Regions from separate parts of the Homo sapiens genome. Here region 2 is linked to region 1. The links come from fine-mapping of genetic effects on gene expression. A gene starts in region 1. The other region holds a variant in brackets. All regions are shown on one strand. Distances are between the middles of the regions. Region 1 holds the start of ZFX (zinc finger protein X-linked). Region 2 overlaps ZFX (zinc finger protein X-linked).

Region 1 (5,501 bases):
TGGATGTATAAGTATTTTTGATGGTAATTATGGAAAAACTAACAAGAATGGTGACATTAGGTTTTTCTGTCTTGAACATGCTGCTTACAGTTGCATGGATGAAGTGAGGCTCTATTCTTCTTCTTTTTTTTTTTTTTTAATAGAGACGAGGTCTCACCATGTTACCCAGGCTAGTCTTGAACTCCTGGGCTCAAGTGATCCTCTCGCCTCGGCCTCCCAAAGTGCTGTGATTACAGGACTGAACCAGGGAACCTGGCCTCCATTCTTGCCATACCGTAGCATCACACTGAGGCCCTTGGAAAGTACTTAAACGCTGATTATCAATGTTTTGAAATATTAATGTGGGCGGCCGGGCACGGTGGCTCACGCCTGTAATCCCAGCACTTTGGGAGGCCGAGGCGGGTGGATTACCTGAGGTCAGGAGTTGGAGACCAGCCTGGCCAACATGGTGAAACCCCATCTCTACTAAAAAAATAGAAAAATTAGCCAGGCGTGGTGGCAAGTGCCTGTAATCCCAGCTACTCGGGAGGCTGAGGCAGGAGAATCGCTTGAACCCCGAAGGCAGAGGTTCAGTGAGCCAAGATCACGCCATTGCACTCCAGTCTGGGAGTGCAAGAAATATTAATGTGGGCACACAAGCTATTTCTCATTTTTTTTTATTGAAACAACATTGCTTAGTTTCATTTACCTTTCTGTGAAATGTCTTTCTGTGAAAGTCTATCACAGCCTGATGTAATTTTTATAAACAATGAATACATGCTGTTACTATTTTTGAAAGGAAATTTAATCGCTTGGAAAAATTCAGACTAAAGCCCCGAGAGGAAAATTATCATCCAGTGCATGCTCAGAGATTTCTTCTTACTCTACTTTTGTTTTTCCTTTTTGAAAGCATTTGTGATTGAGAGATGTCTGAGGGAAGGGACAAATTGCATTCTGGGAGTTTTAAAGAGTTATGTCAGGCAACTAAAATACGTGGCCTCTGTATTTAAAGAGATTTCACACCAGTATACTATTTGCTTTATAATTTTTGTGTTTCTTATTGTTTAAAAATGCCTTTAACATTTAGTGCTGTGTTAAAGGATAGCATGCCAGATTCCAGATTAATGTAAAGACTCCACTATTTAACTTTTCCCTAGTAACTTTAAAACAGAGTTTGGGTTCCAAGTTCAGCATGGAAAGATAGCATAAACATTTAAACTAAGTAAAGTGCGAAATACACATTTTTGAAGTTGGTAAGTGCTGTTTAATCATTTTCCCCTTCTCTCCCAAGTCTTTTGAAACTTCAAAAGGCTTGTTTAAGCAGTGTGTTTAAAAAAAAAAAAATCCATACCCAATTGGGCTCCTCTCTATTAAGGAATGTGGAAAATTCATGATTTATGAAACGATGACACCAGTCTTACATTTCACAGGCTCCCAAGCTCTGAAACACGGGTACATAGGAAAATACACAGAAAATTCCTGTTCTTTGCAACGTGCGAAACGTTTCAAAATGCAACTTTGCTCATCTCCCTCCCCCGTACAAACTAATAAAATCAGTTTGGCTCTGACTGCTTATTTTTAAAAAGTAGACGGCCTGGTAGGTGCTCTAGGGATAACCCTTCTCCCCCCACTCCACCCCCCTTCCCGCACACCCATTTAGACTGGCAAGCCCGTTTTCATTTTATTTCAAAGATTTTTTTTTTTTAAGCGAAGGCAGGGGACGGCGGGGGTTGCTAAATTTATCTTCCTCCCCAGCCACGGGGATGAAGAAAACACATTTACTGCGGGCGGGGGTCTGAGGGCCTGCAAACAACTCGAGCTGGAGCCTCGGCCAGGACCGGCGCGAGAGGCGGTAGGTCTCCAGGGAGGCCCCCGGGGGGCGGCCGCGGCCCACGGGACATGGTGGGGGGCGGCCGGGCCGCCTGCCTCTCCGCGGGGTCGGCCGACCGCGGCCCCGCGCGGGCTTTACGGCCGAGGCGGCGGCGGCAGCGGCGCGTGTGTGGCGGCGGCGGGCGGGAGCGCGGAGGAGGTGGAAAGAAGGGGGGCGCTGTCACGGAGACTCCGGCCGCCGGAGACCCCGCCGCAGCGAGGCCACTGGGCTCCCCGGTCGCGGGGCGGGAGCGGCGCCGACACGGGGTGCCAGGAGGACCCACCGGGCGGAGGAGGGGGCCTGTCTACCCTTCCGCATTTTCCTGGGTCTCTCTCCCGGGCGGTGACGTGACGTGCTGACGGCGGGCCCGTGCCGGGGAGCTGGGCCGCTTTTTGTCAGCTCCGAGCTCGGCCCCTCCTCCCTCCCTCCGCCCGCCCCACCAGCCGGAGCCCGGCCCAGTGCTCCAGAGAAAGGCCGGCCTGCAGCACCCGCCACCGTCGCCGGCCGCCCGCACGTCCGTCCGGTGAGTCCCGGGTGCCGCCGCGGCCGCGGGGCCTAGTGCGCGCACAGCGGCCTGGTCTCGGCCTGGTCGGCGGCCCGCAAGGCGCCCTCCCGCGCTAGGCCGGGCGGCGTGGCGCGCGGCGCCGAGCAGGCCCCGAGGAGGCCGCAGTTAGGCCCGGGGAGGAGCCCGGCTGCCCCGAGCGGCGGCGGAGGCGCGCTCCGTAAGCGGGCGGGGGTTGGGGGAGGGTCGCCCGGTTGTGCCGGAGGCGGTCGAGGGGCCCCGGGTCGGCTCCGCGGCCGACCTGGGGCACCGCGCCGGGGTGAGGCCTGGCGAGGAGGCGAAGGCTGCAGGCGTGAGGTGAAGGCCGCAGGCCGGCCGGGCCGATTTTCGCTATGTAAATATCGGTGAGGGGGGGGGAGGGACGGGGGACAAGATGGCGGCGGCTCGGCGCCTGCTGCAGGGGACGATAGAGGGGGTTGCCGGGAGGGGGAGCCGCCATCTTGGAGGCGGTGTCTGGAGAGAAAATTCCGCTACAGCCCGTGAGGGGGGGTGGGAGAGCGGGCGGCGGCGGCAGCGGCGCCGGTGACGGGCCCCGGAGGCCCGGCGCGGCGGCGTGTGCGCGCGGAGGGGCGTGCTCGCTCCCCGTGGCGGCCATTGCCCTTGCCGCCATGATGAGCGCTCGGGCTCCAGGCGCTCGGCGGCAGCGCCACCTTCCTGCCTTGCCTCCCGCAGCCCCGTGACTGGCTGCAGTTTCCGCTGCGTTTCAGCTGAGCTGCCGCAGGCGGCCACCGCCGCCGCCCGGACGCCGGGACCGTTTCACCCTCAGCGCCCCTGGCCCTGCGCCTTCCCCCGCGCCTGTAGCCACCCGAGGGCAGTCGGGGCAGGTGGCATTCCGGACACCTGGGCTTACCAGGGCATACGGGACCCCAGGAAATGTTATTTTTGCTTAAGTCAAATCATATGTGGCTGCTAAGGTGCTTTCGATGCAGTTGTTTTTCCAACAATCTTTGCCGCCCCGAGTATCTGAATAAAGGAAGAAAAATAAAGATTGATGGGAAAGTTTTTGCCATTCTTTTGTCCTATAGGGAAAAAAATTGCACAACACGAGAGCGGAGGAATAAAATTTTGAATCATTCGTACTCATTTATGTGGAAACAACTTTCTTGAAAAACGATTTAAGTAGTGATCTGTTGGTGGTATTTTTTTAAATCGAGGAATAAGGGCAGACTTTTTTATTTTCTTATTGGAGGACAACTTAGTGTGGTGCATATTTATTGTGCATTTGCCTGTCATGGTATTTCGATTTTTCATTTGTGAAGTTTTAAGGCGGAGTTTCATCCCCTAACGTACTTTTTTGATTGCACACTGTGCAACTTTCTTGATAAACTCGGAGCCTACTGTTAGCGATGCACCGTGCTAGATGCTAAGAAACATTAAAAAGGTTCTTGTAATGCAGACGGTGGCTGCAAGAAGTCTCATGTTTAGAGGTAGGTGGGGCAAGGTGAAATGCAGTAAAGTGAGAGGTACAACTAATTACTGGGATTTCCGAGGGAAGCAAGGTTGCCATTGGAGGATCAGGGAGGGACGGGTTCCTGAAGTATTAATAGGTGGCATTTTGAGAAGGTTACCGAGGGATGGGTAGGACTTTGTTAGGTAGAGGTGGAGGTGGAGAAAGGACGTTTCAAGGGTGAAGCTTCTTCAGTAAACAGTAAGTATTTACAGTTTGGCAAAAGTGGATGGTATAGGTAGGGGAGTGGTGGGAATTCAGGCTAGAAAAGTTAGATTGCAGAAGGGCTTGCTTGCCAGGTGGAGGGGCTTATACTCAATGGGGTAGGCAGCGGGGGTGCCCTCAACTAGAAGAGTGATGGCACACCTGAGCTGCACCTTGTTATTTACTTATTTTTTATTTTGAGACAGGTTCTTGCTATATTGCCCCAGGCTGGTCTCGAACTCCTGGGCTCAAGCCGTTCTCCCGCCTCCCACTGCCCGCCTGTCACTGCCGTCTGTTCCCTGAGCTGTGCTTTACGGTACTTAGTAGTTCCATTGGACTAGGAAAAGTTTCAAAGTTGAAAAATAATGAGAGTAGTAAGTTGATCAGTGTTTTCATTATCAGAACGATTACAAGAATGTTCAGAAGTTAAGCAAATTTTGCTACTTTTGGAACGATGCGTCTCTATTAAGACAGCTGCTCCTTTTTTCTATCCTGATTTCTCATCCGAAATAATCTTTTGCTCAGAGTTGTCAGAATTTCTATGGTACACAAATAGGGAGGGGTTTCTAACATTTCATTTACCATGGTTGAAAAGTACAGGACTAGTGCTGTGGGTTATTTGACGAAAATGAGAAATGAGTATTCCCGTGGTAATTTTTTTTTTTTTTTGAGACTGAATCTCACTCTGTCGCCCAGGCTGGAGTGCAGTGGTGTGATCTTGGCTCATTGCAACCTCTGCCTCCCGGGTTCAAGTAATTCTCCTGCCTCAGCCTCCCGAGTAGCTGGGACTACAGGACCCTGCCACCATGCCTGGTTAATTTTTGTATTTTTAGTAGAGACAGGGTTTCATGTTGGCCAGGCTGGTCTCGAACTCCTGACCTCAAGTGATCTGCCTGCCTTGACCTCCCAAAGTGCTGGGATTACAGGCATGAACCACCGTGCCCTGCCTGTTTCCTAGAATTTTATGATGGAAACCTTTAGGTGGCATAGATACCCATTTTCAGTTTTTCCATTTTTCTAGACTGTAACAGGTCGTGAGCAGCGGTGCTCCATGAAAGGGCTGGAGGGAATGAGAGTCTCATGTTTATTATAAAGGGCTATGGTTTAGAAAAGTTCGAGAAACAGTGCATTGCATGAGGCTGACTAGAAGCAAGTTGAGAAGGCGGGCTGTGGTTGTTGAGGTGTTAAGGGTAAACATAAACTTAGAAGAACCAGGTGCTTTTATATTTTGACAGCTGGGAAAGACATAGAAGAACTATTAAGAAGATAGAATTGTTTTGCTGCGCAGTACAGCAACAGTGGATGTTCAAGATTAAGATTAGAGTCAAGTTGTGTGATTAAGACAGGTAAGTGTGTAGTTTAGTTTCAATTAGAAATGGTTAAATATAAAATTATTTTTGCCTGAAAGGGTAGACCTTGAAACTTTGGAAAACTGACTG
Region 2 (5,255 bases), 64 kb after region 1:
GCTTAAAAAGCATATGAAGACACACAGTGGCAGGAAAGTGTATCAGTGTGAGTACTGTGAGTATAGCACTACAGATGCCTCAGGCTTTAAACGGCACGTTATTTCCATTCACACGAAAGACTATCCTCACCGGTGTGAGTACTGCAAGAAAGGCTTCCGAAGACCTTCAGAAAAGAACCAGCACATAATGCGACATCATAAAGAAGTTGGCCTGCCCTAACAATACTTCTACAGAACGTTTGTAGAGATATTGGCCTTGAAGCAGAAAATTCATTTTAAAGCCAATCAGTCTCATTCACATACAATACTGTATATTGATTTATGCTGTGTACAAATAGAATTATTACTTCTAGTTGACTTTTTTTTAAATATACATTTTGCTCAGTAGTGTGTTCTGAATTCTATTCAGTTTGTTTAATAAATAGGGAAAACTGGCAACATGCTAGTTACTTTTAATAAAGTAATCCCTGATTCTATACCGAAGTTTTATATCTTAGAATTTTATATTTATTTAAATATTTACCTTGCTTACCTTGATGGTACTCTTCTAAGACCATTAACTTAAGGTAACTTTATATTGGTAACTCTGAAAGTATTCATGTTGACTCATTTTTTTCCCCATACATTTCTCACAATAAAATTGTCAGAGACATCTACTAATATAAATGGGAGATTTTACAGTCAGGTCTAATTATCATAACATGGAAGTCATTTACTTGTCTTGCTTAATATTTTCAGACCACTTGACAGTGAAAGTTTCCATTTGAGCTGTTGCGTCCCTGGCTTTGCTGAGTAAAGAGCAGTGGCTGGGTTCGTGTTTACTTTTCAAATATACTTCTTTTGGCTTTCTTTGGATTATTTACATCTTTTGTCAGCGTAGCAAACTTTTAGAAAACCTTATTGAAAAACTGTGCTTGCTCATGTTGTATTTTGATTATTCTGTCTGTGCGGCTTCATCTTGGAATGGTTGTGTGCTACAAATGACACTTACTGAGGACTGCATTTTGGAATCTCCTAGAGGTAACTCATGGCTTATAGGATCTTTTGCAACTTTATGTATGTAAATGTACCCTGAATTATATATATACACATATATATCATGTACCTGTGTGTATTGCTTATTTTACATATTTATACACACAACCCCAAGTAGTAGTTGTTTAAAATCTATAATGAAAAGTATTAAATTTACAATAACATGAAAGATCCAGGGATGCATGAGAGAGCATTTTGTAAGTCATGCTCTTCAGAGAGACTACTCAGGTGAAGAATTAGAAGGAAAATAAGGACACTAGTATTTTTAAAGAGTAAAGATATTTTCTTTTAAATATCTTTGGTAATTGAAACATAGAGGTTAAGATGTTTCTAGGTAGAATGTTTTCATACAATTTCACCTCCATGTCTTTATGTTTTTCTGAAAAGCAAATGAGTATCCAGACATGACTCCCACAGTTCTCTTTGAGAAGCCTGAGAGGGAACTCTGTCTTACCTAGTGAGGGGGATGGAAAAGAAGTGATGGCTCTGTGGACCAGAGAACGGGTGCTAATTATGACTTCACACTCGGCAAGTTCAGGCTGATCTGTTATTTCTCAGTTACAGTTAGCAAACTTTAAAAACTTAACACTCAAGTTGGCTTTGATTAAAAGGTAAAGATGTGTTTTAAGTGGATAAGGAAAGTCTGAGGCCTTATTTGGAACATCACTAAGTCTTCCACAGGTTTTTTGTTTGTTTGTTTTTTTTTGTTGTTTTTTTTTCTTAAGACGGAGTCTTGCTCTGTTGCCCAGGCTGGACTGCAGTGGTGTGATCACTGCAACCTCTGCAGCTCACTGCAACCTCTGCTTCCTGGGTTCAAGCAATTATCTGCCTCAGCCTCTCGAGTAGCTGGGATTACAGGCGCCCACCACCACGCCCGGCTAATTTTTTGTATTTTTAATAGAGATGGGGTTTCACCATCTTGGCCAGGCTGGTCTTGAACCCTGACCTCGTGATCCACCTGCCTCGGCCTTCCATAGTGCTGGGTTTACAGGCGTGAGCCACCGTGCCCAGACACCACATAGGTCTGAATCAGTGTCATACATTCATAAAACAAACTCGGTTAATTAGAACTTGGTTATGTTAAGACGAATCTGGGAGAACAGAAAACAGTTTTTGGGGTCCCTTCAGTTGGCTATTGGTCCGTATGCATCTAGCACATTGTAGGAGATTTAGAAATTGTCTTCCCACCCGATAGCTGCCTTGTCACCTCATTATGGTGCTCCATCCCCTGTGTGCTTAGGTTTTTACCTTTCATCTTTCTCTTTGCCATTGATGTTTGTATTCAAGAGTTATATTTTTAGGGTTAGAAATCAAAATATTTGGTGTTTGGCAAACCTCTGAAGTGCTAGACTGATTTAGTCTAGTTTTAAACCAAGTGCTTTAGGCAGGTGTGAACTCCAGCCCAAATGCCAGTCAAAGTCAAGGCATGGGTTTTCCTAGCCTATCTTA[T/C]AGGAAATTCCTGTACCTTCTTGGCCCCCATAATGTGTTTTTTTTTTTTTTTTTTTTTTAAACTAACTTACAATTTTGTGATCCGTGATTCATTGCCCTGCGATTCTTGAAAGCTCTGTCTGTTTTTTTGTGAGAACCTTTAAAATCTCCCTTAATTTTTATTTTCCCAGAAATAATGTAAAAACACTTAAATGAAAGTGGAAATGTATTAATTTTAAATCCTATAAAATTAATACAGAAAATATAAATGATTGGGTCATTTAACTATATTTTTTTAAATAAACTGAAAGATAAAGAACACAACACTTCACACATTTTATATTTCTCTTACATACTCCGGAATCATACACAGTTCTTTTTAAAGCACAACATTAAAACCTTTAAAAGGTATTTAAGGGTTTGGTCAAGTGAATATGATAAAACATACTTGTCTGTATAAAGAGAAAATGAAATTGTAGTCACTGTTATGTACTGACATTAGTTACAACCTAGTTTTAATTCTTAAAACAATTTTGATTAGCAAAGCTAAAAAAAAATGGATGTTTCAGTTAAATGTTTTAAAGAGGTACAGATTTTTACAAGGACATAATATAAGTTATTGTTCTGTAGAAATATCCTATTAAATATTGTATGTCCCTCCCTCTGTACACTTTGTAAAGAAAGTAAAATACATAAAAAGAAAATCATATAGGGATGTGTGACATTATTGTAATTGTGTACTTGAGAATAACGTGCAAAAATAAAAATCAGAATATTTTCCTGTTATTGAATGTTTAGTCTATTTGATACCAGTACTAAGTTAATGCTTTTTCTCAAGGAAAAAAAATGTACAGTTTTTGTAAACCTAATAAACATCAAAAGCAGTGGATTATTTTCATCCCCCCATTTCTTAATTTCTTTTTCACAGCAGTGGAATGCAAAGTGCTTGATTGCTTTGAATTTTGTGACTCGGATGCAAATACTGGTAATATTTCAGTTCTGTGAATTTGCAAGTAATATTTCAGAGAAGTTAAGAGGTGATTGGTGAGTCCTTTGATGAGCATGTCCTTGGAATTCATTTTTTCTTTTATCTTCATAAAGGATTTGTTTTATTAGCATCTCCAATTCCCCTGAGATAAATTACTCATGCATAAAGTGGTTTTTGAGAGCACTTAAAGTTCATTTCAGTATTAATTTACAGCATATTTAATCAGTGGGGACTGTTACCACCTCCACAACAGAAATCATGCCCTCGAGTTACCCCACTGCGCCCAGTTTAGAGGACTAGTAGATGCTAACATACTAGGGAATGGTCATTGCCACAGTTAAAAATCGGCAGTTAAGTAAATGTCAGGAGTCAAAAGAGATAGAGTTGTGCCATCTTTGATTTTATAGACAAGATTCTGCAGTTCTTCCAACTGTATGAACAAACGTTTGCCTAATAGTTGAAACAATAAATTAAAATTTTAGGTAAATGACGAAGGGAATGTGGTGAATGTCACTGTCCAGAGCCATAAATCAGACAAAACCATACATAGCATGCTGAAAAACTTTTGTAATGGAACACCCAACAAATGACACCTAACCTGTCTGTGATCCAACAAGTCCGATAACATGCTGCTGTATTTGTATTCTCTGGGAATCTCAGTATTAATAATTTCATTTCCCACAAATTCTAGCATTCATGTAAGGAAAAACATGGCTAATCAATATCTTAAAGGGGCAATCTTTCAGAGCAGTGGTTTTCAAAGTATGGCCGGACAGCATTGGCAGCATCTTAATCTCCTGGGACTTTGTTAAAAATGCAAATTCTCAGCCCCACCCTAGTCCTACTGAATTGGGAAACTGGCGTGGGACCCAGCAGTCTTTGTTTTAACATGTTCTCCAAGTGATTCTGATGCCTGTTCAAACTTGGGAAACACTTTTAGAGCACTTGAGGAACCTAAAAGATGACTGGTTCAGCATTTTGTGTGGTAGATAAGAAAGAAATTATCACAAAAAATCAGAAATGAACAGTGAGAGAAAAATAGGACCCCAGACAGTTTATACCTTCCATTTGCTGTTTTAAAAGTGTGAGCCTGCCAAGTCAACAAGTATGCCTTTAGCGCACATGTAAATAGCCTGCACTTCCTAAATCTCGTGTGGCCTCCCATGGTTACATTCTTCAAAGGTAAACTGAGTTGAGAGGAAGATTCAGCATTTAAAAGAGAAGGGTTGAAAAAGATTGTGTGTGTGTGTGTGTGTGTTTAATTGGCCCAGGGTTACTTAAATAAATCATAACCATTTTGCCACATTCTGTAACTGTTTAGCTAAGGTCAAATTAAGTTTACCCTATGGATTTTGTTTCATCTTTTGTTTCGTGTATATACTGTTTGCCTTTTTCATAAAAATCTTGGATTTGTTATATATTGTTCCTGTTATTTTTGACATCTTTGCTATTGTAAATAAATTACTATTTTGTTTTAAGTTACCCTAGTGGAGTGTTGGCTATAGACAAGGTATATACTCGAAACGAGGAGACTTAAATCACACAGTTAATGAATTCCCAACTTGTTTGAAGCTGGAGGTGATTCGACTCCCTTCAGTGGTTCAACACTAATAATAGCACCAAGGAACATGTCACTGGTGCATATAGGCATAGCATCTGTACCGACTTGGATTTCAAAATCATGTTTTGACCTCTGTGATGGAAGTACTCACTCCATGAAGTTTGAGGTCAAAATCAAGAATTACTTTCCTTTACTTGGTTTTTCCTATTCAATTGGTCTCTCATGTTACTTGTATTGCTGGTA

The links. PIP is the estimated chance that this variant, and not a neighbour inherited with it, causes the effect.
Region 2: its variant is fine-mapped to the expression of ZFX in fibroblasts (GTEx, PIP 0.98).

What each region holds. Positions count from the first base shown.
Region 1 is chrX:24,147,423-24,152,923 of GRCh38, forward strand. ZFX (zinc finger protein X-linked) reads left to right here and starts at 2,307. Exons shown (of 10, transcript NM_003410.4): 1 at 2,307-2,372; 2 at 4,269-4,378; 3 at 5,298-5,408. ZFX-AS1 (ZFX antisense RNA 1) reads right to left here and starts at 2,232. Exons shown (of 3, transcript NR_046657.1): 1 at 2,133-2,232; 2 at 1,331-1,420. RefSeq lists enhancers at 1,644-1,743, 1,950-2,763 and silencers at 1,854-2,213, 2,274-2,683, 2,704-2,753, 2,804-3,313.
Region 2 is chrX:24,211,157-24,216,411 of GRCh38, forward strand. ZFX (zinc finger protein X-linked) reads left to right here. Exons shown (of 10, transcript NM_003410.4): 10 at 1-5,099. The coding sequence ends at 220. Among named protein-coding and RNA genes, the nearest start is that of ZFX, 64 kb to the left of the region's middle. The variant T/C (reference allele first, on the strand shown) is at 2,485.